Linked DNA regions of Homo sapiens: all the other regions are linked to region 3. The links come from fine-mapping of genetic effects on gene expression. A gene starts in region 3. Each other region holds a variant in brackets. All regions are shown on one strand. Distances are from middle to middle.

Region 1 (10,398 bases), 110 kb before region 3:
GGAGAAACGAAGCTGTGTTTCTATAGGGAAACGGATCCTCACTAGTCTGATTAAAAATGCCAGGGGTAAGTTCGCCTCCAGAGGACAGAGGACCTCTTCCCCATTTCTCATTCCTCTTGCCACTGTTAGGCCTGTCTCTATAAAGTGATTTTGATGGGCTGAGAGGAATGTGAGAAGCAGCATAGGCAGGGCTCATTTCAAGGATCAATAGATCAAAGGTAAGGAGAGGGAAAAACGCAGACAGCAATGCAAATTGCTGTTCAATAGGTTTGAAAGGCTTGTGGCCACCAGGTATTGAACCAGTGTGAGTGTGGGTGGGCTGGCCATTTGTAGAGAAGACACATATACAGAAGGTCAAGACCACCTCCATAATCACCACTGCTCGTGCAGTGCTGCAATATCTTGTATAGAAGAGTACCCAATACATGCAAAGCACAGTGACCTATTTCTCTGCCATTCTTTTTTATTTTTAATCTATAAACAGCAGTAGCAATTTTATCCATAACCAGATAAAGGGTCCAGATCATTTGAAACCTTTCTTTGAACCAAAAAGTAGACAAATTGGTCAGTGTTAGAAATGCAAAATGCTTGTTTCCCAGTGCCACAAAGAAATAGCACTGGAACATAAATGCAATTTTCTCAGAAAGGCAAAATTTACTTTCTGCAGAAAGGGTGCCCCTCGAAGATGGAACAATGGCGAGAGCACACCTGGACAGGGGAGGGGCAGGAGTTCTTATTCCTGATGCAGGCGGCCCCTACTGCTGTGTTGTTCCCTATTGGCTAGGGTTGGACCACACAGTCTAAGCCAGTTCCGACTGGCTATTTTAAAGAGGGCAGGGATATGAGCCAGAGTGGCAGGGTGAGTAGTTTGGCGGGAAGGATGGTTAGAAACAGGTAACCAAAGGTGACTTAGGTCAGAGCAGGTGACCAGGGGTGATTCAGGTCAAAGCACGTGACCAGGATGAGACAGGACAGAGCAGGTGACCAGGGGAACAGATGTGAACCTACTGAATAGGACTGGTGGGAAAGTTGTTTACTGAAACTAGAAGCAAGTGGGCAGAGAGAACCAGGAAGTTAAACTTTGAAATCAAGAATTAAAAAATAAGAAAGCTGAACATACTGACATACTGATTCTTTGAAGAGAAACTGGAAGTTCACTATATTTAACACTTTGGCCTACAAACCAATAGTCACAAAATGTAAGTGCCCATTACTTTGTAGGAGAGAAGGCCTCTCTCACCAGATTGTTGATTTTTACTTTGAACGTAATTCTAACAAATGGGTGTCCTGTTACTCTTGGCTACAGCAGAACAGGGAGCGGGACCATGACAGGCAGATGCATTAATAGGTATTAGAAGAGATTTAAAAGCATCAATATTATGTGATGGAAGACATCACATAATAACTGGACCCATTTTTGGATGGGAGTCTTATCCCCTGAGGTATCACTGTTTTACAGCATGATTAAAAAACTATGTTCATAAGGACAGCTCCTAGCAATTTGAAAATGTTTTAAATGTGTTGTAATATCTGCTTTAATGAAGGCAAAGAGTTTCCACTAAATACATACACACACACACACACACACACACACACACACACACACACACACATACATATATAAAACCAAATTTAGCATCCTGGATAATTATAATGCTACATTTCCTGATAACATTGAATAAGCCAGGCATTCCTAAACTTTTGACAAATCTCAATATTCTTATGTTTATTTCCTTTGTCATTTCTGCAGAATCTTTAAAAATTGTGCCAATTATTTATTTATTTATTTATTTATTTATTTATTTATTTATTTATTTCCCAGCACTGTTTTGGATTCAGTTCCCTCAGAAAACAGTGGGATGAACTAAATAATTTCCTACGTTTCCTTGACTCCATGATTTTACAATTTACATACCCTTCCATGTTTGTTACAAAATGTAACACACACAAAAAACTTTTAACTTTCAGCTGCAAGATATATAAAAGCACACTTCTCTATAAGAAAAATAACCCTTTATGGACTAAAACAAATATTTACAGGAAACCCCAAATCTTGTTGCAAGTAAACTTCCTTAGGCTTTGGGAAAATGATAAAAGTACCAGTGAAAATATTAAACCGCAAGTGACAGAATCTCTCAGTGATCTTGGTAGGAACAAATTAAACATGCCTTGAAATCTAAATAACTGAACAACCATTCACGACTGCTCCTGAAAATAACATGGCCCTTGTGTAGGTCTTGGCATTCAGGAATTTTAACATGTCTCATTAAAAAATCACAGCCAATCTTGCTCTACAGGTGATGAAACAGAGATAAATTATCTGATGGAAATGCAAAGGAACTTAGAATTCATTTTGTTGAGCACCTGTTTTAGCATTTAACCTAGTACGTCTAGCAAAGCAAAAGGAGTGAAGGCTTTGTGTGTTCAAACGGTTCAAATGAAAAAGGTAAACTAAGGGGAATTGAGTTTGATTTACTCAATAATAGGAAACTTAAAGAATATTTCTGGAGCATCAGCACTGTTCTGGATGCTGAAGCTTCAAAGATTCAAAATCATTCCTGCCCTCAAGTGAATTGCCATTTATTGGGAGGGAAGATAGCTATGTTCAACAATAACTTTATTGAAAGGAAATTAAATTTTGGTACCCCGAACGCATTTAGACAAACGGAAAAGTCAAGCCGGGAACTGGGTCACTCAAAGCCTTCCCCTTTTAGTTCCTAAATAAGATGGCTACAAGGTGAAAAGCTACACAAGCCTCCCCCATATTTTGTCCACAAGGACATTCCTAGAGAGCTGTTAAAACTTCACCATGGCAATGCAAATGGACAGCTTATCTTTATAGGTGCAGTCACCCTGGCCCACCAGACACAAATGCATATCTGAGTGTCGCCCTACCCCATTTTGTCTGTTATCATACGTAAAATGCAGATTCCCCGCATTTTTCCTCTGCCCCCTTTGTTTATGTGATCTTATGTACAAAACACAGATTCACTTAGATGAAAATTGTGTACTTCTCAATATCCCCACCCTTTCCCCTTTAAATCTGGAGCCCTCAAAATCATCTTCAGATAAAGGCATAGACCTATCTCCCAGGCACATCCTTAACTTTGGCAAGTAAACCTCCTAAAATGATTGAGACTTGCCTCGTCATTTTCCTCGATTGACGGTACAAAGCTAGTAATAGAAGGATGGGCAAAGGTTATTAGAGTGAGAGAAGTGAGGAATGAGGAAGGTTTACAGAGGAAGGGAGCATTTGATCAGGGCCTTGCAGAACAGAAAGGAGGTCAGAAACAGGAGGGTGAGGGTATTCCCTGTGTAGGGAATAGAATGAGTCAAGAAACAGTGGTGGCTTGTATATGCTGAGTTTGGGGAGCTGTGAGTGATCTTATTTCACCGGATCAGGTACTCCTATAGTTTTTACAAATCTCGACATCCCTGTGTGCATTTCTTTTGTCATTTCTGCAGAATCTGGTAAAATTATGCCCATCATTTATTTATTTCCCCACAATGTTTTTAACATTCTCCCTGGCGGAAGTCAGAATGGGAAGAAATAGTGAAGGCATGTTGTGGAGAAATTTGAATGCTGTAGTAAGGAGAATGGACTTTATCTTCATAGGTGGGGGCTGTAGGGGGCTGGATCAGAAAGGGGAGAGAGACAGAGGCCGAGGACCAGATGGCAGGCAATGACAACCATCCCGGTGAGAGGTAATAGCTGTTGAAATCCAGGAAATGGCAGAGTAAACAGAGAAGAGAGACACAGAGAAAGGAGACTGATAGAATCATAGGCATGAAGGAGTGGAAACAAGCCTCAGGACCATGAGTTGAGAGAGAGACAGCCAGCCAGACTGGGCTCTTTTCCTAGCATCCCACGCTCTATTGCTGATCAGCTGTGTGACCCTGGGCAAGCCCTTCCTGTGCCTCAGTTTCCTCATCTGAAATGAAGGCTTTCAATGAGATCAGTGGTTTCTGAACTATTCCATGGAGACCTAGGATTCCAAGGAAGTTTTGATGAAGAGGGTGGGGAGGTGGGGTAGAAGAGGGATGAGGAGAGGGGTAGAATTGTGCAGTGGGCTATGACTGCAGAGTAGAGCGAGGATGAGGAGCTCTAGATCCCAAACCTTTTCTTTAACCAGAACATCTCCTTTATACAATAGCGTTCCCCTTAAGATTAAATTTGATTTTTTAAAAAGTTTGATAAGCACTGGACTATACAGATAACGTCTAAAGTCCCTTTGAGCTCTCCCACGTGAATAACCAACCACACTTACGGAAACTAGCTCTCCAAGAGATCTGCTAATGTAATGGACATGGGTCTTGTTTTTAGGACCCTGATGAGTTTCTCTGTTTATTTGATTAACTGTTGCACAAACGCTGGAACAACTGGAACAACAATTGTCATGCTGAATCGGTGCCAAAACTCTCAAAAATGGAAAAGATTTACTGAAAGGCCATTTGGTGTTCTAATTCTTGTGCGGTACCTTTTCCCAAGACCCAGTAAGTTTTTCAAACCTCATAAACACCAGTGTGAAAACGGCCCTTTGCATGAGAGTACAAAGACATGGCTTTGCTACCGACTGTTGTCTGCTTTGGGGTAAGTTGAGTTGCCCCTCTGGTTTCTGTTTCCCTGCCTATTGAAAGACAGCATTGCACCAAAGAGTCTAAAGGCCTCCCTTCTGGCTTTAACATTCCAGGATTTCATGATCCTAAACCCTTGGAGTCCGTTATCTGAACAATTCCCTGATCAATAGCATATGCTCTGGGTCTTGTTCTGTCTTAGTCAGATGGTCAGTATATTGAGGGCTTTGGCTGTTTACTCTAAGGA[T/C]TGGGCAATGTGTGCTTTAGCCAAAATCTCTGAGCCCTGCAAATGGATCATTCTGAACGGAGGGCTAAGGTCTAAATTAACAGCAGACCTTTAGAAACACAATGCTTTATGGATTGGTATTTGAAACGGAGAAACCCGTGCCTAGGTATAAACTCCTGGCAAATGGTCCACAAACCACCATTAAAATGGAAACGAGAAAAGCCAGCGAATCAGAGCAACCATGAAGTGGAAACCAGAAAGTTTCAGACAGGTCTGAAACTCACACACTCACTGCATTCCTTTCCTGCCTGGTGTCTCCTCCTCTCCCCTCCCACTCCCACATTTTTTTTTTTTTTTTTTTTTTTACAACAATTCGTTTGTTTTTTATAAAAAAAAAAAAGAAAGGAAAAAACCAAAGAGACGAAATGAGGACTCACTGGGAGAGCGCGGCCAGGCTGCGTCTTCCATGCGATCCGGATCCACCCAGCATGTCCGCAGTTGGGAAGGGGCGGCGGGGCAGAGAGATACGGAGACCTGGCCAGGCCGGGCGGTCAGGGCGTGGGCTGGGCCCGCGGAGGGGCCATGTGATCTGTGGCTGAAATGCACGGTGCAGGATGCTCCCGTGTTCTCCCTTTGTGTTAACACGTTGGTCTGTCCCTGTGACGAAAGTCTGGGCTTGTCCTCAGCCAAATCTACTCCTCCCAACCCGTTCCCTCCTCACAGGATCATCAGAGAGCTGATTGTTATTTTTTACTGTAATCTCTCTAATAGAAGCCCATCATGTTTAGCGATCAGAGAGCACTGATTGCTTCGGGAGTTCCAGAAATGTTATTGCTGGGTAGTCAGGGCCAGGATCTCCAGTAGTTTTCCTGATGAAGACTTTATATGCTTAACTACAAATAATTTTTCCAAGGTAAGTAACTGGTCAAAGGAAAAAGACACTGATGCATTTGCTCAGCCTTTTGGAAAATAGTTGATCATGGTATTACATGCATATACAACCTAATTCTGACAAGATCAACAGAAATCAGCCCACCAAAAAGTTCATCCGGGTGCAGTTCTCAGGCTCCCATTCTGAGCTCTGTTCTCAATTAGCATTGGTGTAGGTGGCTTCCAAAGCAAACAGTTCCCACTGAGAAATCAAATCTGAGAAACTCCTCTTATCCCTTTTATCCAGGGAAGGAGCATGACATAAAAATGCAAACCAAATGAAAAGGGATGAAGAGAGATGGCCCTGCTCAGTGATGGGCTGGATGGTTCAGCATGTTTGGTGCTCACACCTCTCCAAGAAATGTGGGCAAGAGCCCTCCTGAGAACATGTTGAAACAGCAGGCCCCGTCTGCACCCATGGTACTCTGCCAGTGATCTCATCAGCCAAGCTGGGCAATGGAACCTGGTCAGCAGCGGCTTGGAAAGCAGCCAAATCCCAGTTCCTGAGGAGGGGGTGGTGTTGATTCTGTCTGGAGATGACACTCCGTCTCAGCTTGACTTATGAATATGGTTCTTCATCTCTAATGAGCACTAAACAGACTGGTATTTGGGTACCAAGCTGCTCGTGGGACTGGCTTTCTGTCAAGTGAGAACAAATCCGATCTCCACAATGTAGAGTTAAGATTATTCTCTTGGTAAACAGCAGGAGAAGCAGTCAACTTCACACATTGAGAGCGCTTTCACGGAATGAAAGAGATCTTTGAGATCTGCGGCTTCATGTCACACGCAGACAAGGACACCAAAGCACAGAGCATTTAGACAACTCACCCAATGTCATGGAGCTGAACTGCATCTACTACTCTTGTGTTCAACTTAAAGTTTAATTGGGTTAGGTTAAGTGGTCTCCACTTTAGCTAGAACATTTTGGTTGTTTTCTTGCTTAAATACTATGCGGTCATCAGAGTCGTAGTTTATAGGCCAGGCGAGGTGGCTCATGCCTGTAATCCCAGCACTCGGGGAGGCTGAGGCAGGTGGATCAAGGTCAGGAGTTTGAGACCAGCCTGGCCAACATGGTGAAACCCCGTCTCTACTAAAAATACAAAAATTACCCGGGCTTGGTGGCAGGTGCCTGTAGTCCCAGCTACTTGGGAGGCTGCGGCAGGAGAATTGCTTGAACCCAGGAGGCGGAGGTTGCAGTGAGCTGAGATGGCGCCACTGCACTCCAACCTGAGCGACAGAGTGAGACTCCATCTCAAAAAACAAAAAACAAAACAAAACAAAAAATGAAGTCATAGTTTATAGAGTAAATACAGTTTAATAAACTTAAAGTTAATTATCTCTATATATCATTATGTATATATGCATTTAAATATCTCTGATTACACATATGATCACCGAACATATATTGATGAAAGTAGCACATAAGACACCCATAAAAGTAGAGATACATCTGCCTTCACACAAGAGGACTTAAATATACACTGACTTGTCCTGAGTTTCTCGCTCTAGAACTGAGACAGAAACATGTATCGAGGCATTCTGCTGCTTCTCTTTCTACCGAATTTTGCCCAATTAATTTTTTCCCTTCAATTACTTACAAAAGTCGGTGGTTTTCTATGGTAGGTGGAATAACGTTTCCCGCAAATCTCCAGAACCTGAGAACATGTTAATTTGCGTGGCAAAAGGGACCTTGTCGATATGATGAAATTAAAGGCATAGAGATGGGGAGAGCATCCTGGATTATCCAGGTGTGCTGGAATGAATCACATGGCTCTTTAAAATCAGAGACCCCTTTCCAGCTGTGGTTAGAGGAGCTTATCTGTCAGGGTGGGCAGACAGACTGGTGATGGCTTTGAAGATGGAGAGGGGGTCCAAGAGCCTGGGAATGTGACTTCCTCTAGAAGCTGGAAAAGGCAAGGAAATGGATTCTCCCCTGGAGCCTCCAGGAAGGAATACAGCCCTGCTGACACCTTGATGTTAGCCCAGTGAGACCTGTGCCAGACATCTAACCTATAGAACTGTACAGAATAAGTTGTGTCGTTTAAAGCCACCAAGTTTCTAGTTATTTGTCGCAGCCATGCGAGAAAGCTATCACCTCCTGATTCCCTCCTCCCCAGCCCCCCACGCCAATTCTGAGGTGACAGGTATGGTTTTGGCATATTCAGAATAGGTTCATAAAATGGAAAAACCTAGAAAAAAAAATTGTGGTTCTTTCTGGCCAGTATTCTCCATGGAGGAGAGCAAGAATTTAGTAGTCTTCCACTCATGTGCAGAATCCATGTACAGAAAGTGTGCTAATTGCCAGCTGTACACAGGATGTCCACCAGGCTATTTCCCTAATTGCCAAAAGAGGGAAAGGGAAACAGCGCGCACCCTCCTTTGTTATTAGGGGCATGCATTTGGGAAGCAGCTGTCTGTCTTCAGTTTGTGATAGTAAAACCCAGTGGTGTTATAGCTCATGCTACCTGGTAGGGTACTGACATGGGAAGAGTGAAGAGAGAAGTGAGTCTTGGACCTGGTTCAGACACTCTCTGGGAAGAGGAAGAACACAAAGGCCAATGAAAGACAGGCAACGCGGGAAGACGCATAGAGATAACAAGTGAATCATGAGCTGAGAGCAGGGCTGGGCTAGGCAAGTGCTTCCAAGAGTCCTCTGAGACCTGGTGCCTGGGGCTGGAGAGGCAAGGTAAGAGGATTGAGAAATAACAATCTAAAGGTTATTTGTGCACAGTGTTCTGGTCCTGCAGAGACCTACAGGCCTGTGTGCTTTCACTGCATAGCAGAGAATGGTACCCAGTGTCCAGCTGCCAGAACTGGTGTCTCTGAGAAGTGAACTAATGACTATTCATTGGCACCATGAACAAGTGGGCCAGTCATCCTTCAGCAAGATAATAGGTATCATGAATTTGATGATGCTTCAGGACTCTTACTAGGAAAAATGAAAGTCTGGGCCATTCTGAGATTACTCATAGTATCCTTTGTTTCTGGACACTTTATTGTTTAATTTTTCATCAAAGAGATTCTGGGCTGGGAAGGTTTGAGGGAGGTCAGACTGTAATAGAAAGGAACAGCTCCCACCACAGGGTGGTCCTTTATTAAGAAAATATGATTTTTTAAAAATAACTTTACTTCATGGAGGTGGGAGACCGGACCACAAGATCTGTTCCAGACTTTAGAGTCTGCAGCAGTTGTTTAAGAACAGCTTCTACCTTGAAACAATTCCCTAGGGAAGAGAGGTATGTGGGAAGTGCTGTGCATATGCCCTAATGCGCTTATGACACACATGCACACACATACACACACATACAGACACACATGCACACACAGGCACACACACATACACGAATGCATGCATATGCACACATGCACACACATACACATGCGCACACATACACATGCACACACATACACACGCAGGCACATAGAGACACACATGCACACACAGGCAAACACATATACGCATGCATGCATATGCACACATGCACATACACATACACACACATGCATGCATACGCACACATGCACACACATACAGACATGCATGTACACACAGGCACACACATATACACGCATGCATGCATACGCACACATGCACACACATAACATGCACAGAGCCATTCACTTACTATGGAAACACATAAACCTAAGGGAAATCTACCACTAGGGAGGCAACAGTTCGAGTAGTACAAAGGGGACGTTTGAAAAGGCTGTTGGAGATAAATTTTCTTATGAAGAAATTCATAGGCTCTGTACTCTTAGAACTAGGCAAAAAATCTTGCCTAGACAGCTGTTCCCCCACCCCAAGGTGAACAGGAATGTAGGTAAAGGAGTTTACATATTCAAAGGCAGCATCTCTTTCCTCCTTTCTGTTGGCCTCTCATAGTTTTCCCCTCATAGACGACGGCATCTCCCATCCCCTGCCCCTGCCATGGCGTTGAACGTGTTCACTTAAACTATATTGCTCTGTCATGTCCTGTGATCTTGAATGCAGGAGCTGCTGTGGAAAAATCACAGTTTACTCCTCATCCTAGTCTTCCAGTGGTTCTTCACCAGCGTCTTCATGGCCTGTGCTGATACACGTTTCTTAATTATTCTTTGCCTCATCTGTCTCTAGGCCTGTAATAGGGGCTTGGGTTGTGACACTGTCTTATTGCCCTTATAATGGTGAGCATGTAGTTTTATTTTGTCCCAGCACATTCCTTTTTGCTTTGCTTCGCGTAGCACTATTGGAATGTTTACTACAAGCAAGTCATTGCACTAAGTGCTGTGGGGGATGCAAAGATAAGAAGGGCAGTCCTAAAGGGAGATAAGACATGTATACAAAAATTCTATTATAAGACAGAAAGTGAACAGTACTCTGAAAGCAGTAGAGCTAAAGAACTATACTTCAGTAGGTGACATCCTGTGATCAAGGTCCCAGTGTTTAATCACTCTCACGCTCAATTTATCCTGTTATCGAACTAGATTTCCTGTTGCTGAAATAGAAACCTACTTATCTCTAGGAGGGCCACAGGTATTAAGTCATCCTTTAGTCTCGTCTTTTCTAGGCTAGACGCCAATGCCTATTTTCCATCCTTTTAATATCAGCCTGACTATAACAACTCTTCAAACGGGAAACCAAAATTGGACATAATAAAAGCTGACCAAGGCCTGGCTGAAGTCCCAGT
Region 2 (10,398 bases), 81 kb before region 3:
TTGTGCACACGAGTGGGTGTAGCTTAGAGGAAAGCACAAAACCACATCTGTGTACCATGTGGTATGACTCTCGGTGGTGTGTGTGTCTTGTGTGGGGGAGAGAAGCTGTATGTGTTTATGAAAATGGCTCTCGGTATCAACCCAGGATGGGGCTGGAGATCCTCCTTCATCCCTGCACCCTTATATCACAGAGCTTTTCAGCCCTTCTCTAGCATCTTTCCTTTGTAAGAGGAGACATGTCTAGGTAGAATGGTAAGTGATTTTCTTTTTCTCTTCTACGTCCCCAGTCCCCAGGCAGTAATCCCTCATTTCCTGCCCTACCCCTACTCAGTGCTGAATTCTTTTCAGCAACATTGGTTAGGAAACAAACTCTCAACCAATGAAGGGATGAAAAGTCAAGACAGGGTGATTCCATCAGTCGTGAGGCTCTGGGTGTCACAAATAGAGTAGTGTGAAAGAGCTAAGTATTGATGTTAGTGACAGATGATGCGTTCTCGGAGAGTTTTATGAAAATCTAAATTTTTGTGCTGGAGGAGGGACTGTGGTCATGCTATTGAAAAATTTACTGAGGTGACTTCTTTTGTAAAGAGGGGAAAAACAAAAACCTTAACAGAGGCAGATGTCATTACCTATGGATATGTCTGTGTTTTCAATATGGATTCTCATAGATAGGATTTTCTTTTAAAACAGGGCATGCCTAAACTGCCATGATTAAGAAATAAGTCAGTGTTAAAGGTTTCAGGCCAGATGCAGTGGCTCATGCCTGTAATCCCAGCACTTTGGGAGGCCAAGGTGGGTGGATCACTTGAGGTCAGGAGTTCGAGACCAGCCTGGCCAACACGGTGAAACCCCATCTTTACTAAACACACAAAAAATTAGCTGGGTGTGATGGCAGGTGCCTATAATCCTAGCTACTCAGGAGGCTGAGGCAGGAGAATCACTTGAACTCGTGAGGTGGAGGTTGCAGTGAGCTGAGATTGAGCCGCTTCACTCCAGTCTGAGCGACAGAGCGAGACTCCATCTCAAAAAAAAAAAAGGAAAGAAAAAAGATTTCAAATCACCAAACACACTGCCCTTCCTTTTTTTTTTTTTTGAGATGGAGTTTCACTCTTGTCACCCAGGCTGGAGTGCAATGGCGCGATCTCGGCTCACTGCAGCCTTTGCCTCCCAGGTTCGAGAAATTCTCCTGCTTCAGCCTCCTGAGTACCTGGGATTACAGGTGTATACCGCCACACCCGGCTAATTTTTATTTTTAGTAGAGACGGGGTTTCACCGTGTTGGCCAGGCTGGTCTCTAACTCCTGACCTCAGGTGATCCTCCCCTCGGCCTCCCAAAGTGCTGGGATTACAGGCATGAGCCACCGCACCCAGCCTGCCCTTCTTTTTGAACAAAGCCACGAGCCTGCGGCCCAGGGGATTGGCATGATGTGACGAGAGGCGTGTCCTGCATCTTACCACCACGCCAGGGCTTCCGGGACTTTCCTCTCTTTCCTTTCCTTCCTCCTTGCTTTTTTTTCTCTGCCTCTTTTCAAAGGCAGAATATTGAGTGGTATTTCTTCTGACATTAAAAAAAATTTTCTCTTTCTTTGTGACTTTTTTTTCTTCTCTGTCTCCCACCCTGTGTCGGAAATGAAAGTATATTTATATTTATTAAAATCAATTTATGGCTCGTTTCCTTTAAAAATTTAGTTCAATAGCTGATGTGCATCTTTCAACCAAGAAATGTATTATGTTTTATATTCTTTTTTGCTGTTTTTCTTTTTCCCTCTATGGGCATGTAGCCCTCACTATAGATATTTCCTGTGATGCCTTTATAAGGGGAACTAGTAAGTTTCTGCTTTTGTTTGGGTCAGTGTTGGTGGCAGATAAGCCATTTTAGGTGTGTGTGGGTATGCTCACCTGTGTCACCTGTGCATGAGCACGTGTGTAAATGCAGTCAAGGCAGGAGATGTTTGTGAGCAGGTGGCTAACCCAGCACTCAACACTTAGGGACAAGGCCATGTGGAAGAAGCTAAGTCTTATCTACTTTTTGGGCAGTGCCAGTATTGATCTTGGAATGCAAGAAGAATAAAATCTGTTGTGTCAGGGGCACTGAATAAGTTAATGCAGCATCCAAAAGGAACTAACATTTATTGAATATGTACTATGTGGCAGGCTGTTTTTTAAGCCTTTAACATTTTTAATGAATAGACTTATTTCTTAGAGCAGAAAAAAAGCGAATAGAGAGTACAGAGTTTCCATATATTCCCCCCTCCCCAACTCCTGCCCACATTTTCTCCTGCATTTGGAGATAGAGTCTTTGCAGATGTAGTCAAGATGAGGTGATTAGGGTGGTCCCTTATCCAATATGATGGTGTCCTTATGAAAAGGGGAAATTTGGCACAGAGACAGACAAACACAGAGGGGAGATAATGTGAAGACATGGTGAGATGCCATGAGAAAATGGAGACAAGGAAGACCTAAGGCCACCAGAAAGCTGAGAAAGAGAAATGGGACAAACCCTTCCCCAGTGCCTTCAGAGGGAGCCTGGCCATGCTGACACCTCCATTTCAAACTTCAACTCTCCGTAACAGTGGGACAAGAAATTACTGTTATTATAGACCAACTAGTGTGTGGTACTTTGTTATGGCAGCCCTAGGAAACTTAGGAACATCTTGCAGTAGTGTGGTACATTTGTTCCAATTGACAAACCAGTATTCATGCATTATGATTAACTAAAGTTCATAGTTTACATTAAGGTTCACTCTTTGTTGCACAGTTTCATAGGTTTCACCAAATACCGAATGTCATGTATTCACCATAGTAGCATCATACAGAATAGCTTCACTGCCCTAAAAACCCCACCTGCTCCACTCATTTATCCCTTCCCTCTCCTTACTCCAAAACCCTGGCAATCACTGATGTTTTTATGTCTCTACAGCTTTGAGTTTTCCAGAATATCATATAGTTGGAATCATACAGTATGTCTGTAGCCTTTTCTGATTGGCTTATTCCACTTAACAACACACATTTAAGTTTCCTTCAAGTCTTTTCATGGCTGATAGCTCTGCTGGGCCATTAAAATATAAGTAATTTTACTTTATCTGGGTAACAGATCTGTGAGGTAGCTAGTATAATCCCCATTTTATGGAATTTCAAAGTGCATACACTTAACCACTATAATAGGACTAATCCACTATTTCTCTCTAGGATTTGTTTCCCATTTCAGGGAACAAACAAGAGTGCCCCAAAGAAGTTCTGAGAGGACTATTATCAGTGATTGCCACATTGATTCATTGGATCATATAACCTTAGGTAAGAAATAATCCTAAAAATTACCTATGCCTTCGGTTTACAACCTGTTTGGTTTAAATCATAGAATTATCAAGTCACAAAAGATCTCAATTGAATTAGCCTTCCAAATGCTTATTTCATCTCTGTTAATTTATTGTTAGTGCTTTGTAAAATTCGTAACTCAGGATGGCTGTATCCTCGACAGCATCATTGCATACTTTTCTTCAATATCTTAGTTTCTTCTCTTATATTGTACCTTCTTCATTACACATCTTCCTCCTCTAACCCACTGTATCCTCATTCACAACATCATCATTTCTCTGCTCTCGCAAGGAACTCTAGTCTTGGAACACTCAAAACCATTATTAGACAGGTCCTCTCTGACTAGCCATCATTTTGCACCCACTGTAAATTTCATGATTCAGCTACTTCAGTGAGGCCTCACAAAAACATTTATACAATCAATATACAATAAATATTTACCGCACAGCTACTATGTGCCAGGTACTGTTCTCGACACTGGGGTATAACAGTGAACAAGACAGAAAAGGTCTTTGCCTTCCTGGAATTGATAGTTTAGACTTTCTTGCTTCTTTAAAGTTCCACCAGGCTTGTCACACCCATCTTCAACCTTGAATCACACCTATCACCTGCTTTCTGTTTTGTGTTCTTGAGATTCAGTGCTTTGTGGGAGAAAGGGAGCATGTCGTGTATATCCTAAAGATTTGCATTCATTTCAGTTGGGCCATCGCTGCAACTCAGTGATGTTTCTCTTCATCCTACAGGTATTGGGTGATTTCTGGGTACAACATACTCCAGCAGATTTCCTACCTCTGATCTGCAATGATCATCGCTTACCTTGACCCTTTAACTGTTTTCCTTCACAAACCCTTGGCAAATAGTGACCTGGAATGAGACCTAGGAGACTGAGACTGAAGCTCTATGAGCTTTGTTTCTCTATAAAGTGAGCTGGTTGGAGAGATAATATTCAAAGTTTCATCTTACGCCACATAATAATACTATGGCTGTATACCTGCTTGAGCCAGCAAAGCTGGAGGTATCACACATGACATATCCATGCTTCTTCCTCCTTCCCAGACATAAATGTGTTGAGTATCTAAGTCTGTTCTCATTTAATTTTTTGATCTAGAAACCATTAACCTTCCTTTCAAGCTGATCATACCACAGCATCCTACATAAAAATATTTTATCACCTCTCAAATATGTCTTACAACTTTCTACCTCTACATTTTTACTCATTCTTTTTAATCTACATCTTCACTATCCATATTTTTATTCAATCATGAATTTCATGCTCAAATTTTACTTCCCTCATGATACCCTTTCCTGAGAACCCTAGCTTAAAAGCGACAATTCCCTCCTTGAATATCTATAATTCATGTTGATAATCAATAACACACTGTCAGCTACAGCTCATCAATTGTTCTCTTTAGCTAGTCTTTAAATATTTGTATTAGTATTTTACTTTCCATATGCTTTTGTTCTTAAGGCCACTTATGAAAAGATATAGTCTTTAAAAAAATTTTTCCACAATTGAGACAGAGTAGGCACTCAGAAATTGTAGCCAATTTGAGCCACTGGATTTCTATTCTAGATTTTACCATTCTGAGTATGGAAAATGTAACTCAAGCCAATTCATCTCTCTGTACTTTATTGACTGATCAGTGTTTACAAAGTGAATCAAAGACCTTGGTAATTGACTATGTATGAATCTCAAAAATTATATAAACCCACATTTGCAGTAGTTACACAGTAAATCTGGCAGCACTTTCTTTCCGACTGTACCAAATGAACTTTTGTTCTTTTCAAAAAAAATCAATTTGTCAACCCACTTTGCTCTTTTCTGAGCTCAATGGTTCATTTGGGATTGAAAAACCAAATAAACAAATGGATTATAATGTACAGTTTGCACTTAACTTTAGCTCAACCTTCACCATCTTGTTCCAAAAATCTGTGCTACTTTAAAAAAATACATGCATTTACCAAGGCAGGTCTGTCAAGAACAGCAGCATAGAAATAAGAGTGAATACAATCAACCTGAGGCACTTTGT[C/T]TTCTCAAGGTGTTTCTTTTCTCTAATCAATGGAATCCAACATACTAAGGGCAGGTTAACAGGTTATGACCTGTTTTTCCCTTGCCTTCCCCGCACAATCTCTTAGCATTACCATTTCTCTATTTGTACTTCTCCACTAGCAAACAGAAGACCTGGCAGATTTAACATTATTAAAGCCAATGTCTTTATGCCCTTTCTTTCACCTTCTGAGTAGCAGACAGTTTGAGTAGTTTAGATTTGTGAAATGATGGTTTTTGTATATACTAACTTCAACACTTAGGAAGACACCATGTTTAGGGACTTTAGGTTGCATCTTCAAGTGTTATCACAAATATCACCACCTTAATTTGGAGCACTTTATATTTTTCAAAACTTTATGGTTATCATTATTTGATCCTCCCAAGTAAGAAGAATCAATTCAACCCCATTTGAAGAAAGGAGACTGAGACATATAAAGCTTTGACATTAGCTCCTTAACCACTACAAATCAGTGGAAAACCAGGATTGGCATTTAGACTAATTTCTAAACCAACTTGAAAGTTTCTTAGAAGAATGAAGAGAAGTGAAAATTTGGGACACGACTTCTTCTGTTTTCTTTTCAAGCATTTAAATACTTTTCCTTGATGAACTCAAGGAGAATTAGGCTGAAAGACAGAGTTTAATGCTAAATCAGAATAGGCATGCTGCTCTATTGGCCACTAGAGAAGAACAAATGACACAAGCGTAAACCCTAAGGCAAGGTGGAAATTCTCCACTACCTTGTGTCCATGTGAGAAAAAATGCGTAGACTTGCAACAAATATGTAAAGATGCTTTCTAAATGTATGCCTGACTAACAGAGGCATTCACAATATTATCACACATAATTCAGATACAGGGAGGGCTGGCTCCAGCGCAACTACCCAAAAATGGGGGTGCATGGAAAGGGTAGACCCCTATCCCTGAAAAAGCCAGGGAGAAGAAGTGGCCATCTATTTAGGGTTATGGCGAAAATATATTTTTTAAGATTCTAAGGCTATGCTGTCCAATATGGTAGCCACCAGCCACGAGGTCATTTAAATTGAAAATAAATAAAATTTAAAATTCAGTTCCTCAGCTTCACCAGTCCCATTTCAAGAGCTCAGTAGCCATTATGTGTTTAGTGGCCCCCATATAAGACGGTGCAGAGAATGTTTTCATCACTGCAGAAAGTTCTACTGGACAGCTCTACTATAAGATCTTCCAACTCCTGGCTGGGCGTGGTGGCTCACACCTGTGATCCCAGCACTTTGGGAGGCCGAGGCAGGTGGATCACAAGGTCAGGGGATTGAGACCATCCTGGCCAACATGGTGAAACCCTGTCTCTACTAAAATTACAAAAATTAGCTGGGTGTGGTGGCGCACACCTGTAGTCCCAGCTACTCAAGGGGCTGAGGCAGGAGAATCGCTTGAACCTGGGAGGTGGAGGTTGCAGTGAGCCGAGATCATGCCACCGCACTCCAGCCTGGTGACATAACAAGACTGTCTCAAAAAAAAAAGAGATCTTTCAACTCCTAATATGAAATGATTGTACTGAGTGAAGTAATGCTATGCACTTCAGAGACATGAAGGTATGTTAGATATGGTTTCTGTCTTCAAAGACCTTACAATCTCATAGAAAAGATGTGGTAAGTTGTGGGGTGTTGTATGGGTCAGCATCTCAAAGCATGGCTGTGCTCTCATAATTCCCTCATTGGTACTCTCTCCATTTTCCTATGGAGGCTTTTTGGATGGGGGCAATCTAGCTGTGACTGGGCACTTGCAACTGAGAAAGTGAAATGCTTGGCAAATACAAAAGAAGCTGAGACACTGGCTGAAGAAAGATCACACTTCAAGTTAAGTAACAAGGCCCAAGAGTGGTTCACATGGAATGAAAGTTCAGAAGCCATGGGCCTTTCCCAGTTGTAAACATGCTGCAGAGATCACCATATTTTACATAAAAGTAGTTTAACTTGTGCATGGCCTTCTGGACTTGCTGAACTACTCAGCTAAAAAAAAAAAAAAGTCAGCAACTCATGTGCCTGCTTTTTGTGACTGGTTTGTTCAACTAACACTTCCAGTTTAGTGATACAGAGCCTTGGCCAGCTATCTTGCTAATATAAAGTAGGATAGCTTAGATGGCAGGATGCAAATCCATTTATAGTGCTGAAAACAATTCAAAGGTGTGTTCTAGAGGTGCTTTGTTAATAGCAGTATTTTTGTATGTGAAGGACAAGCTGTTACTGATCAGGGACTAATTATTCTCTAGTGAATTATTTGACTTCTATTCATCATGATCATCAAGTGTGTTTACTGTATTCTGGAACTGCAAAGCAGGTTAAAAACTACCTTCTAGAAGTTTATAATCCAAGGTGGAAAGGTTTGAAACCCAACTAAAGGATGTTATCTGCTATGTCCCTTGGATGTAACAGACATATAATTTAAGCATATATATTTACAGATAAATAATAAGTTGAAAAGTACTTAGATTGCTTCCTCTTTCTTTATATTTAGATAGTAATTTAGATAGTAATGAGTCATTTAGATAGCAGTTTCACTCATTTATTAGTTTGGGGATACCTGGACTTTTCCTCAGGTAGGGAATGGCTCACAGTTGGGGCCTGCTTAAGAATAGCACAAAACTGGCCGGGCGCGGTGGCTCACGCTTGTAATCCCAGCACTTTGGGAGGCCGAGGCGGGCGGATCACGAGGCCGGGAGATCAAGACCACGGTGAAACCCCGTCTCTACTAAAAATACAAAAAATTAGCCGGGCGTGGTGGCGGGCATCTGTAGTCCCAGCTACTCGGAGAGGCTGAGGCAGGAGAATGGCGTGAACCCGGGAGGCGGAGCTTGCAGTGAGCCGAGATCGCGCCACTGCACTCCAGCCTGGGTGACAGAGCGAGACTCTGTCTCCAAAAAAAAAAAAAAAAAAAAAAAAAAAGAATAGCGCAAAACCATAGGATCTTTGAACAACTGACTCAATAGCCTGAGTTTGTACTGATACCCATGTTGTATTTCTATTGGAGCACTTAGTCTATAGCTTGTATTTTAATTACCAAGTACATATTTGTCTTCTGTAAAAGGTTGTTATCTCTTAGAAATGATTACTGTCTTTCGTGATCCCTCAAAGTTCTTAACTGACTGTTTTTCTTATACTCCGCATTAGGCTCACACTTGTTGAGTTGGAACAGATGCCAGGGCAGTGTTTATTTGTTGAACTTAGTTGTTAAACAAATGAACTTGGCTAAGACGTTATCAAAAGGCTGTTTCTCTGGCTGAGCTCTTAGTAACCTTGGGAATGGTGGTGGTTTACTATGGAACTCTATTTTATATTCTGATTTGTAGTTGTGGTTGTTTTTCTCTAGTGGAAAAGAACTTGGTCTTAGAGAGACATTTCGATTTCAGGAAGAGGAGTATTAGGCATTTAACTGAGGGAATAGGTTTGTTCTTGGATGTTGAAAGAAAAAGAAGACAGGATGAATAAGAAAAGAAGAGAATCAGAATTCAGCTGATACACTTCAAATTTCCGCAGCCTTTGGAAACTTCTTGCTACCCCTCTATCATAATTAGAAAACACTGACATTCAGAGCCAATTAAATGTTTCCATCAGTCTAAAAAAACTGTTGCCTGATTTTGCTCTCTAACCATGCTCAGTAATTAGAAACATAAGGCACCGTTCTGGAGGTTTGCTTGGGAACCTACCCTTCCCAGGCCTCGCGTGGCTACCCATTGGCTACAGGACTTTTATCTTTTCTCACCATCTCTCTTAGGAGCCCCAGCCCAGATCACAGGAAAAGTGTGAGGTTGCCATGGGCATTCCTGGAAAAACTAGAAACTTCCGGTGCCACTTTAGACTTTAAAAAATGCAGAAGCTCACTCTGCCTGCCTGTTTCCTCGCTAAAGCACTATAGCTCTGTACTATACGTGGAAGGCAACAGTTCGAGGATTCAAACCAAAAGAGGCAAAAGGAGGATCTTTGTGACAACCAGCTTGAAATGGCATCCTTGTTCGCTTCGTAGAACAAGAAAGCTGTTCCAGCAGCTGATGTTAGAGTTCCTCACACTCTTGCTGAAAAACCTATACTTTGCAGAGTGTAGGATTAGAATACCATCTAAGAAGCAGCAGCAACAGCTTTCTACTTCTGACAATATCTACAAAGAAAATGGAAAAATACTTGTAATCAAGGACTTCAACTCGACAGTTACCTAGCTTGTCAAATTAAAACATGTGGCAACCACCGGGCTAAATATCTTGAAAGAATGATACTTTCTTGTTTTTCTCCCTGACCTAAAATCTCTTTGGAGTACATTTGCAATTCCTAATTTTTCACACTTAAACAAAAGCTGTCCACACTATGTTTAAAGATGACTAAGCAATTTTGTATTAAGTAACCAAAGATCACTCTGCCAATTTTAGAATAATTAAGTTTCTGCAGCCGAATATAAACAGTTCCAAGAACTACATGTGGCCTACCAAAAGTATATATTACAAGTAGTCAACCCTGTGGCCAGCTGGCAGACAGATCAACATGTTAAAGTAGAATTGTTCAGAATTTGGAGTATTATTTTTCTTTTCTCCCAATATCTTTTCTGCATCCAACTTTGTTTCTTTGGGAATGTTTTCAAGTATACAAAGCAAGAAACTATTGTGGGATTGCACCTCTTGTAAACGAATGAGCATTTCTCTTGAGATCCTTTGGAATGCACATATCATTCCCATTTCAATTCCATCTACACAGGAAGCCAAAGAAAAATGGAGCAAATGAATCCACCTTCGTACCCCTCAAGTGAGAGTATTCATATTGTGCTTGATCACCAGAAAGATCTGCATTGACCACTGGACAAGTGAACGTGGACATTAAGCCATAGGTCTGTTGAGCACCAAAACACCTTTCTGACCCTAGATCCTTGCACTGTGCATTAGTCTGCTCTTGCACTGCTATAAAGAACCATCTGAGACTGTGTAATTTATAAAGAAAAGACTTTAATTGGATCATGATTCTGCAGGCTGTATGAGTAACATGGCTGGGGAGGCCTCAGGAGACTTTCAATCATAGT
Region 3 (10,398 bases):
TTTTGCTGTTTCTTCTTTACTCACCTGGCTGTCATGCACAACTTAGCCCATTTTTGTAACTGATATCCATTCTGGCTTAGACTGGTCCTCCTGACCCCAGTGGAACTAATATCTTTGATGCCAACTGGTCCTTGGCCCTCTTGGGCACTTTGCCTTGGTCCTTCTGGTCTTCAGCACAAGGTGAAGTCAGCCTGGTTCCCCAGCAATGTATCTTGAGACAAGCGAGGGGGAATGTTATATGTGGGTGTCAGAGGAACTAATTATATATTCCTGCTTAATATGTTTCTCTCCAAGTGAGATTATTCCCTTTTAGTCAAGTGCTTTCATGGAGTATTCACAAAACAATGCCAGAAGCCTCAGGATACCATCAAAAAGCAATTTATCTTCAAGTTATACATCATTTATACATATACATATATTTTCAAAGAAAAGCCATGTACTAAAATGAGTGCCCGATATACTAAAATCTTTTAAAAATGTATTTTCCTTCAACTATTCCCTTACTGCTGCTTAGCAAGCCTTTTATTAACTTCTGGGTGTTCTTTTTACGTACACTTAATAGCAGCCATTCCTGGATTTCTCTAGCCCCCACGAGCTCCCCATAGAAAATTGCTTCTTTTCTGGAAATGACCTCTTTTTCTTTGAAATGGAGGTCATATGACGCAATCTCCACCTATATATCTGTGTATTTACCCCCTCTTTTCTTCCTTCCAGATCATGGACACCTCCACTCATGTTCTGATCCCATCCACCCTTGTCTTCTATGGGAATCCAGATCTGACCCCACTCCCCATCTTACATGCCCCAGCTCAAAGGTCTCTTACCTGTCAATCATGAAGCGTGGGTTTACAAAGGGACCTTAAGGGTTCACAGTTTTTATCAGATTCTCAAAGGTTTCCATAGCAACAACACAGGGAAGAACAACACAGGGAACAACCTCATCACCCCTCCCTCACAGCCCAGGTCATAGTTTCCCCCCGACCCCGCTCCCATAGCCTTACCCACAGCCTGCCAATTATGAGTTTGGGGTGAGAAGCAGAGTGGGTCCTTACCACAAAACATGCTCTGACATCTCCTCTGTCTGTGCAAGTGGCTTTCCCTAGCTAGAACCTATCTGTGCTAGAGTGTTCTGCTGTACTCTGGGCCTCATCTTAGAGCTGGCCCCTGCAAATTGTCAATGTTGGATCAAGAAAGCTCCCTATCCGGTACAGGGATGGGGGAGCTGGGGAAGAGGTTACAGGTGGAGGCCTGGGGGTAAGGAAGTTAGGGATGCAACTAGGGTCGGTTACAGCTGGGAGCACTAAAGACAGAAGCAAAGAGGTGAGAGGCGAGCTCCGTGGAGCAGTCTGGTTTCAATACCAACAGGAACCACAGCCAGGTGTTCCTGCCTTCCTTGCCCTTCCTACAAGGCCCAGGCATGACGTTCCGGGGTTCATTCCATGCTTTTGGCTGGAGGCAGAGAAGCTGCCTCAATTACTTAAGGGCTTTCTGTTGTCAGCACTTTCTCACTGGTCTTATGCTCAAGTGGATCTTTGGATTTCCTGGTGCCTTGTACCACTGATGGCCCATCTTATTCCACTTCCTTATATTTGTGTCCTCTTAGTCTGTGATCATCAAAGTAAAAATTCAGACAACATTGGGATAGACCAGTATTCACTGGACACGGCTCAGGGCTCTAGAAATAACCAGGAGCGAGAAGATATCACTCAAGGGTCCTTAAATACGAGAAAGGAAGAGATCATTAGGGATACTAGGTAAGAAGTGGAGGATACCAGCCAAGATGAGCATAATGTCCAGAGGACTCAAATGATAGGCAGTTCAGGGTATAGAATCTGCAGGGAAGAGGGAGCAAACAGCTTCATCTCATTTGGACGTCTTAACCACTGTGGGACATCGGAGAAGCATTACCAATGTCCGTTCTTCACTCAACAGATGAAGTCAAAAGCTGATGATTTCCTCAAAAAGGTCAGGGTTACTTAAGCAGAGGAACCAATACTAGAACTGAGATGTTGTAGTGGTTCTCATAAGTTAAGCCTGTGCCAAAAGTTTCTCTTTAAACTACCCATCTACTCAGGACTTATGGGCATCTCTCCAATAGCAAACTTGGATTAGCCTGACAGATGAAGGACTTTCAGTAAGGAGCTAATGGTATCTTCTCAGGCCCTAAGAGAACTTAACGCAGAAAACGCCCTTTTGAAGTCTGAAAATTCTTTGGCAGCATCTTTCTAACCTCCTCCTTAGTCCTACCATGCTATTTGCATACCACTCTATCAGCATTTTTCCTGTCCCCCGACCACATTTCTGAGACATGTGATAGACTACAGGCAAATGGGGAACTAGCAAATCTCTTTTCATGCCCATCTCTGAATCACTTTTGCGTCTTGCTAAGGAATGACTAACTGGTAATCATGCTATCAAGAAAATGGCAAATGGAGACAATTACATGTGTTTCTACAAAAATGCCTGCTGAGGTGCATTTTATTTATCAGAACAGAGAATACCTGGGCTAGATTCTGGACCTTTACATGGCTGGCCATAAGATCAACTTATTCTATCTACCTAAGACAAGGAGATTCTCAGGCCAGTCACAGGAGCCAATTAGAATTGTTAATGATTCTCATAATAAGGCAGTTGCCTTACTGTCAGGAAATGCTTTCATGTATCTCATTTAAAATCCTTTAAACTGCAGTTTGAGCCTGGTTCTCCTTCTCCTAACTTTAATATAAGAATTGTGTATTTACTTAAGGCAATCTTTTGACTGGAATGATTTAAATTACACCTTCTATTTGCTTCGAATACTTGAAACAACCCTGCACTTTACTTATGGATCAATCCATTGTACATACATTCCTTGTGTGTCCTAGGATCAACTCTTAGTGACTTTTTGTTCTGGAATTTTGTGATTATATTTCTGAAATGAAAGTTACTGTTTTCATTGTGCTCCTTTGGCCTCACTATGTGGGGAAATGTGTTCTAGGTAACATTCAACAGGAAGGAAGTAGCACAAAGAACTGCCTAAAATTCAGCATAAACTCAAATCCTCTCACTCTATCTCTACCTATAACAGCAGAACACCTAAAGTGTTACTTGGAAAAAAATGAGTGTTTTTATGGTTGTTGGGGGTGGGGAGCCCAAGAGAAGGGGGATGGGGGATCTGGAGAGAGTGGTCATAGCACAGTTTGAACTTTCAGGGATTCGGAGATGTTGGTTTCAAAATGGAATTTATCCTCAAATCCCAAGATTATAGATCTCCTTCCAAACTGCATTCCCTTCATGGTTTAGAGAACAGTTAAAAGAAAAATTGCTCTCCATATTTTGATTGACATTAAAAACACTGTGAAAATAGTTTGGAACTTGATCTCTTCGAGGGAAGGACAGTAATTAAACTATAGCTTTTGCCTGCAGCTTTTCTCTCACACTTACTCAGAACTGTTCCAGGGAAGGAAATTCACAAGGAATTCTGTTCTCATATATCACTTCTAGAAGGAGAAATAGGCATTCCCAAGAAAATTATCCCCAAACTTCTAAATACAAAGAGAAAACTTTATTTAATGAATCTCAACCCCAAACTACCGCATTGCATGGAATAAAATCCAGTTGAATCAGTCATTTGCAGCTGGTAGTCTTTAATAGCCAGCACTACTAAAAAATCATCAGATTTACCCTGCTTGCCATATAGCATCTAGTCTTCACTCAGGTTCTAGCTGTATATGTCTGGTTTTGACAAACACATTAGAAGGATTTTCAGTTTACAAGTCCATCTGCATAGTCCTGTTAATAGAAGGCATCTATAAATATCAAGCACTTTGTTCTCATCCACTTTTTTTGACCATGTATTGCCACAGCACTAAAATTCCCCCACCCCTTGCCATCAGCTCTTTCTAAAAGGAATTCCAGGCTACTACCAACTAGCTGCCTTGTACTACTGTTTCAGACACCCAAATATGTCTATCTAGATATAAAAGCCTGCCTCCTTCCTTTCTGAAACACATTGCCAATCGACATCTCTTTAGATTCTCTAGACACACTCAGGCACACTTTCAAACAGAAAAAAAGATTTCTTAAAAAATAGTTTGGTAGGACGTTAAATGTGCTTTCTAAAAAAACACACCCACTAGCGCATGCATTCTCTTGTTATTAGGTTTTATAGGAAACAGACCAGCCTAGGCATCTTCTGTCTTAGCAAATATCCCATCAGTGACATTAACCCAACCAGTGCTAGGTGCTAGTGATCTCTCCATCTCTGACCGTATTTCCTTGCAACTCTGGAAGTCTAGTTTTAAATACTGGCAGCAGACTATAACGCAAAAGCCTTTGGTTAAAAAAATCATTCCCTTTTGGCTTCTCATCAACCTAAAGGATTGTTGATTTTGTTTTTAAAGCAAAACCTCTTCAAATCTTTGGCAATAAAAGATGCAGAAGAGACTGTGTGAGCAGTCTGGTGCAGTAGGCTTGCTAACACTGGCCTTTGGATATCAGGTATAATCTCATATGGCTGTCCTAAACAAAAGGCTATCCTAATCAAAGTTGCCAGTGTTCCCTAAATGTAAGTCTCTATATGGTCACTCTTCTTGTCCCAATTCTAAAAACAAAACTGGAAATCTCATCCTGTTTGCCTTCCGGGAATATCCGTATGGCAGTGAAGCCCAGTCAGGCTCGGGAGTTTGCATGGTTTATTGCCTTGAACATTCTTGCATCTCCAGCTACCTTAGCCAGGAATGTTGACTGAAAGCCGGAGAAAGTCCCCAGATTCTCTCTAGAAGATAAAAAAGAAAGCCTTCTGTGCCTTACCTTGTAGTCTGAAACTTCTTCCCGAGGACTAAGTCGGAAAGGAAGGACTGATTTCTTTAAGCAGGAGCACAGCCAGAGAGCAAGCAGGCGGGCAGGCAGGCAGCCGAATACACACTGCTCTATTCAATAAAACTCCAGACCGCCCTTCCTTGGCCCCTCCCAGAAGTCCATGCTAAGTGAACACATATCCCCTATGTTTACAGTCGGGAGGCGGTGGTATGCATTGTCCTGTCGTTTTTCTAATAGGCAGCCAATGACGACACCCCAGCCAAGGTGGATGCAGCCTGCCTGTGGAGATGCCTGTCATTCCCTAGGCATGCTCAGGAAATCACTCATCAGAAAACCCAAGACCTAAAAAGCTCTGAAACTGCGTGCACGCTGCCAAAACCAGCCTGCTCCATGCCCTTTTTTGGTTATCCTTAGCAGGGCCTCTGGAAGTGAATCCATTGTCAGGAACAATCATAAGAAATGTTAATCTTGGAGAAAGAGGCTGTCTTGTAGAACACAAATGCAGCAATAAAAAGAAAGCACAGTCTCTGAAACAAAAAGTTAACAGATCAGTTTATTGGGCGTGGGGGTGGGGAAGGCTTCTTACCAGAGGGAGTCTTAATAGTATATTTCTTTTCAAAGTACTTGCACATACAAAATGAGTTTAAATTGTTATGCAATTCTAAAACCTGAAGGAGACAGGACCCGGGTCTGCTGAGCAGACTAAATTCTAGCCTGAAAGAGGCACACCTCCCCAAAATACGTCTGCATGTGTTATAAAAATAAGTGACCAAAGGGAAACCAAAAGCGTAGGTCTTTTTTAGCAGGTAATACTGGCCAGAATAAACCTAAGGTCCTACAGGCTTGGATATCCTCACTGGCTTCACTTTCCTCTCCTTATCTCTTTTGTTTCCTCAGATTTGGTGATGTGGAGATAGTACTAGAAATTCCTAGAAATTGATGCACATCAGAGAGGGTATGAAGAGACCCACCACCTGCTTTGGGCTGGGGTAGACAGATGCATATATCCCGCAGAGGTGACATAATGTTCAGGTGACGTCTTGAAAGTGCTCCGACCAACTCTTCATGGTTAGGATGTGTGCTATAAGAGGGTCAGAATTAGTAGATGCTAATGAGAATTAAGGTAACTGGCCCACACATAGTCTTGTCCTTTTCAATACAGAATTCACTCAATTAGTACTTAATTAAAATTGAAATCCCCTTTTTTTGGAGCACTTACTATTTGTCAGGCCTGGGGATAGGTGCAAGATCTATGTCTCATTGTTATATGTTTGAGACTGTTTCATCACTGACCAAGAAGTTTCACAATATTTTTCCTGGCTAATTACAAGTCCAGATACTGGTCTTTAAAAATGGGAGGTTTTACTATATGCCTTTCCCTGTTTATGAAGATGTGACTTAGAAATGATCTCTGTTTACGAAAATGTCCCTGCCCTTTGTGCCTCTTTTAGAACAGTTGGGAAGTAGCCAGTTCGCACTGTTGGTTTCCTTCTTCAGCCTTCCAGCATTAACAAGTTACCCAGAGGCATCCATATCAACTCTCTACACTCATCTCTTTTTTGGGAAGGTTGCTTCCCTCCCCTCTTCCTGACTGCTACTGCTGCACAGCCCAAAAAACTATAGCTGAGGCTCCCAGGCAGAGGGAGAGATGAGCCTCAGGCATCCCAAGAGGAATGCACTTTCCCAGAGAAAAGAATAAATAATGGTTGGTGGGAATCATACAGTCAATGTTGCATTTCAGGTACACTGTGGCACAAGCAGGCATTTGTGGAACACCACTGTTTATAAAATTGTTCCTGTGGGAAAATGTCTTCTGATCCCAGATAAATGATTTAGAAATAAATTTTCGGAACACGGCCAGTTTTGCTGATGGGGACATCCCATATCTGACAGGAAGGAAAGATAGAATAATACTACATAGTCTGGTAAACTGCTGGGCTTGAACATATTGTAGGGCAGACATCAGGAGTTCAGAAAACAGCTGCAATTGGTGATGTCTGTGCAAAGATATGACCTGTGTCCAGAGACGTTCCGGGTGCATGATCTCCAGGTGGTATTCTCCATAACTCAGTGAGGCCTGTTTGAAAGTGCTATTTTCCATTACCGCTGCTGCTTATATCCTAAACCACACTCTCCCTGCTTGTATAAATAATGCCCTTTGGTGGAACAGCATCAGGGTATAATTTTGCAATCTATGAATAAAATAAATACCAGCTTTCCAGAGGAAAGAAAAGTTGTGCTACAAATGGGGAAAATATTATCAACAGGAAACACGGCAGGGACCTGCATTTTGCCTGGTTTTTAGAAGATAAATGGCTAAATATTTTTGGGTTATGTCTTTTGATAAAAAAAATAGTATGTTTCCATAGATAAATTCTGGATATCTCATATATAGGGTATAGTAGATGAGTGACCACACAACCTATTTTATGTATTTGAAATACACTTATCATGGAGGAACTATATAGTTGAAGAATAATTTAACAAATTTCATGTAGTGTGTACCATGATATTGAAAAATTCTTCTTTCTTTGTCCTTTTACTTTTTTTAAACAATCAAGAATTTAAAAAAGAAAGGAAGGGGGAAAAAAAAAGATACATGTTGCTGAATCTCTGCCATGGGAAATTTTACTTTCATAGTATTTACTTTTTCCAGAGGCCATTTGTAAACAGCCCTAAAAATACACGAGATTTATATAGGAAATTTCTGTGAAATATATTTCCCAATTGGATCATCCTAGATAAAGGACTCCTTGTCTATCATAGGCTAGATCAACTTAATCGAACCATAATAAATCTAAAAAGACATTTGGAAATATCTGGACGATTCTTTATATTTTTTTAGTTACAACTGAGTGTTTGCGATCATGTAGATCAGTAGCAAGAAATTATATTTTGCTTGCATGTCAACTTGGGAAAAGTAAAAATAGGCCATTTTTTTAATTCAAAATTAGTTACTTCATTTAGTCATGAAAAACATACCTCCTTCCACCTTAAAATGCCTACTTTATTCAATAGAAAAGAAGATTTGAAAGTTTTAAAAGGCAGCAGAACACCCTTTGCCAGATTCTTTTAGTCAGATAAAACCTTTGCCAACACCCAGGTTTATCAAACAATAAAAGCAGGCTGGTAGAATCTTGATATCAAAATTGGACACAAAAGTACCAAACACAATAGAGAATTTGGATTAAGTGCACTTATGAATGCAGATGAAAAAATTAGTAATTGAATCCAACAGTGTGGAAAAAAGAGATAAGACCAATCCAGAGATGGTTTAAGATCTGAAGATCCACTGATATAATGTACAACATTAGCAGTTTAAAAATAAAATAAATAAGAGAAGTAGAAAAAAGAAAAGAGAAAGATCGTCTCAATAGGTGAATGATACTTGGTAAACTTAGTAATCACTTTGGAAAAAAAACTCTTGGAAAACTAGAAATAGAATCTTTTTAAACATAATGAGAGGCATTTACCAGAAATATATAGCAAACGTCATGCTTAATGATAAAATGTTAAGAGCATTCCCATTATAATCAATGAAAAGACAAAGCCACTACTATCTCTTCTACAACTAAAAAAATGTGCTAGATACCTAACCAAGACAAATAAATAGAAAAAATAGCCACTGGGATTAGAAAGAGAAATAAAGGTCTTTATTTGCTATACAATTATCTGTGTAGAGAATTTGAGAGGATCTATAAATATATTGGAACTAATAGAAGAGCTTAGCAAGATTGTTGGAATTAAGTTCAAGATGCAAAAACCTAGAGTTTCTGTAATCAGCCATCTCTAATTTTTAAATGTAGTGGAAAAAGATGCTATTCATAATAACAAAAAGTGTTCATTACCTGGGAATAAATGTAACAAAATATGTGCAAGAAAGTTATAAAACTTGAGTTAAGGGCATGAAAAACCTGACTAAATGGTGAAATATGTCATCTTCATGAATGAAAAACCTGAAAGTTGTAAAGATATATATTCTCCTCAAAGTAATCCATGCATTCATTATTCTTTTCTTTTTTTTTTTTTTGAGACGGAGTCTCGCTCTGTTGCCCAGACTGGAGTGCAGTGGCACGATCTCAGCTCACTGCAAGCTCCGCTTCCCGGGTTCAAGCTATTCTACTGCCTCAGCCTCCCGAGTAGCTGGGACTACAGGTGCTCGCCACCACGCCCGGCTAATTTTTTGTATTTTTAGTAGAGACAGGGTTTCACCATGTTAGCCAGGATGGTCTCGATCTCCTGACCTCTTGATCCACCCGCCTCGGCCTCCCAAAGTGCTGGGATTCCAGGCGAGAGCCACAGTGCCCGGCCGCATTCATTATTCTAATTAAAATCTCCAAATGACGTATTTTGTAGAACTTGACAAAACAATAGTAAATATTTTAAAAGTAAAGACCTAAAAATAGGCAAAGAGGTTTTTTTATAGAACAATTCTAATTAAGATAAGTGCTATTCACACAAGACTAAACAAATAGATCAATAGAATAAAGCAGAAAGCCTAGAAATAGACCCCAGCATATATGAATTATTTTAGAGGAAGTATTACAAATAAAGAAGAAAAGGGTGGATCACTCTATTAATGGCAGGGTTACAATCAATTTTGTGGAAGCAGAAAATTTAGATTCAAAGTTTCTACTACACACTATAATAAACTAGGTTATATAAAAAACAAACAGAAATGATTAGAAAAAAATTGAAGGTGAATTTTTTTTATCATAGGGTATATAACATAAAAAACAGAATTAACAAATGAAAAGACTAATAAATTTGAGGATATGGTTAAACACGGCAGATCACATAAGAACACTCATTTAATTTCTGCTTCCCCAAACCTCTCCAGACTGATAGTAAAGCAATAAAAAAATCATAAATAAATCCTACAAGACAAAGAGCAAAGAGTACCTGAAAGGAATTAGCATAAGTCCAGATGTTAGGCAAATTTTGGACTATGGAAAATGGACAGATGGCTGGAAATGGACTCAACAGAGCTGAGAAACTGAAATCTGGTCCTGTGAATTAGGATGCCAGCAAGAAGGACGCTGATTCAAGCCTCAGAATCGGGAAAACCTCGGAATATGGAAGCCCTGGGAACCTCTGAGGACAGGCGGTGGAGCAGAAAACAGATTTGTTGTAAGTCTGGGTAAGGAATAGTTAGAAGTCCAGATAGCGTCCTCTACCCCACACAACCAGGTGAGCATCTCTCTCTCAACCAGACGGAAAACTGAAGTTTATTCTGATTCTTCTTTGAAGTGCTGGGCTCAGAGGAACCAGGTGAAGCAGTGAACAGGGAAGAGGCTGAGTGCTGAAAATAAATGTTTAAATGAAAGCCAACTCGTTGAACACTGAACATCTCCAATCGCCTCACCCTGCAGGGCTCCCAGGACACCGACAATCAGGTTTGTATCCCACAGACAGGAAATTGAAGGATTCCATTCCAGAGAAACTGGCATGCTCATGGAAAAAAAGACCTAAACTCACAGACATTTGAGAGACATTGTCCAGTGCACTTTAGTAACCCATTTGCAGCAACTTCCAATTGGCTACTTAGTACCTCACTCTTTTTTTTTTTTTGAGATGGAATCTCACTCTGTCACCCAG

Direction of the effects. Alleles are on the strand shown, and positions count from the first base shown. SD is a standard deviation of normalised expression in the study named. Not every link is listed here.
For the expression in subcutaneous fat of the gene that starts at base 4,907 in region 3, T is the high allele of the variant in region 1 and C is the other (moderate effect, 0.57 SD a copy in TwinsUK).

Evidence for each region. PIP is the estimated chance that this variant, and not a neighbour inherited with it, causes the effect.
Region 1: its variant is fine-mapped to the expression of CALD1 in subcutaneous fat (TwinsUK, PIP 0.95).
Region 2: its variant is fine-mapped to the expression of CALD1 in nasal epithelium (TOPMed, PIP above 0.99).

The regions. Positions count from the first base shown.
Region 1 is chr7:134,886,514-134,896,911 of GRCh38, reverse strand. The region is part of intron 3 of CALD1 (caldesmon 1); the gene reads right to left. Among named protein-coding and RNA genes, the nearest start is that of AGBL3, 95 kb to the left of the region's middle. The variant T/C (reference allele first, on the strand shown) is at 4,823.
Region 2 is chr7:134,855,043-134,865,440 of GRCh38, reverse strand. The region is part of intron 2 of CALD1 (caldesmon 1); the gene reads right to left. Among named protein-coding and RNA genes, the nearest start is that of CALD1, 81 kb to the right of the region's middle. The variant C/T (reference allele first, on the strand shown) is at 5,345.
Region 3 is chr7:134,774,143-134,784,540 of GRCh38, reverse strand. It overlaps CALD1 (caldesmon 1), which reads right to left and starts at 4,907. Exons shown (of 15, transcript NM_033138.4): 1 at 4,792-4,907. All of the region lies in intron 1 of LOC124901750 (a long non-coding RNA gene), which reads left to right.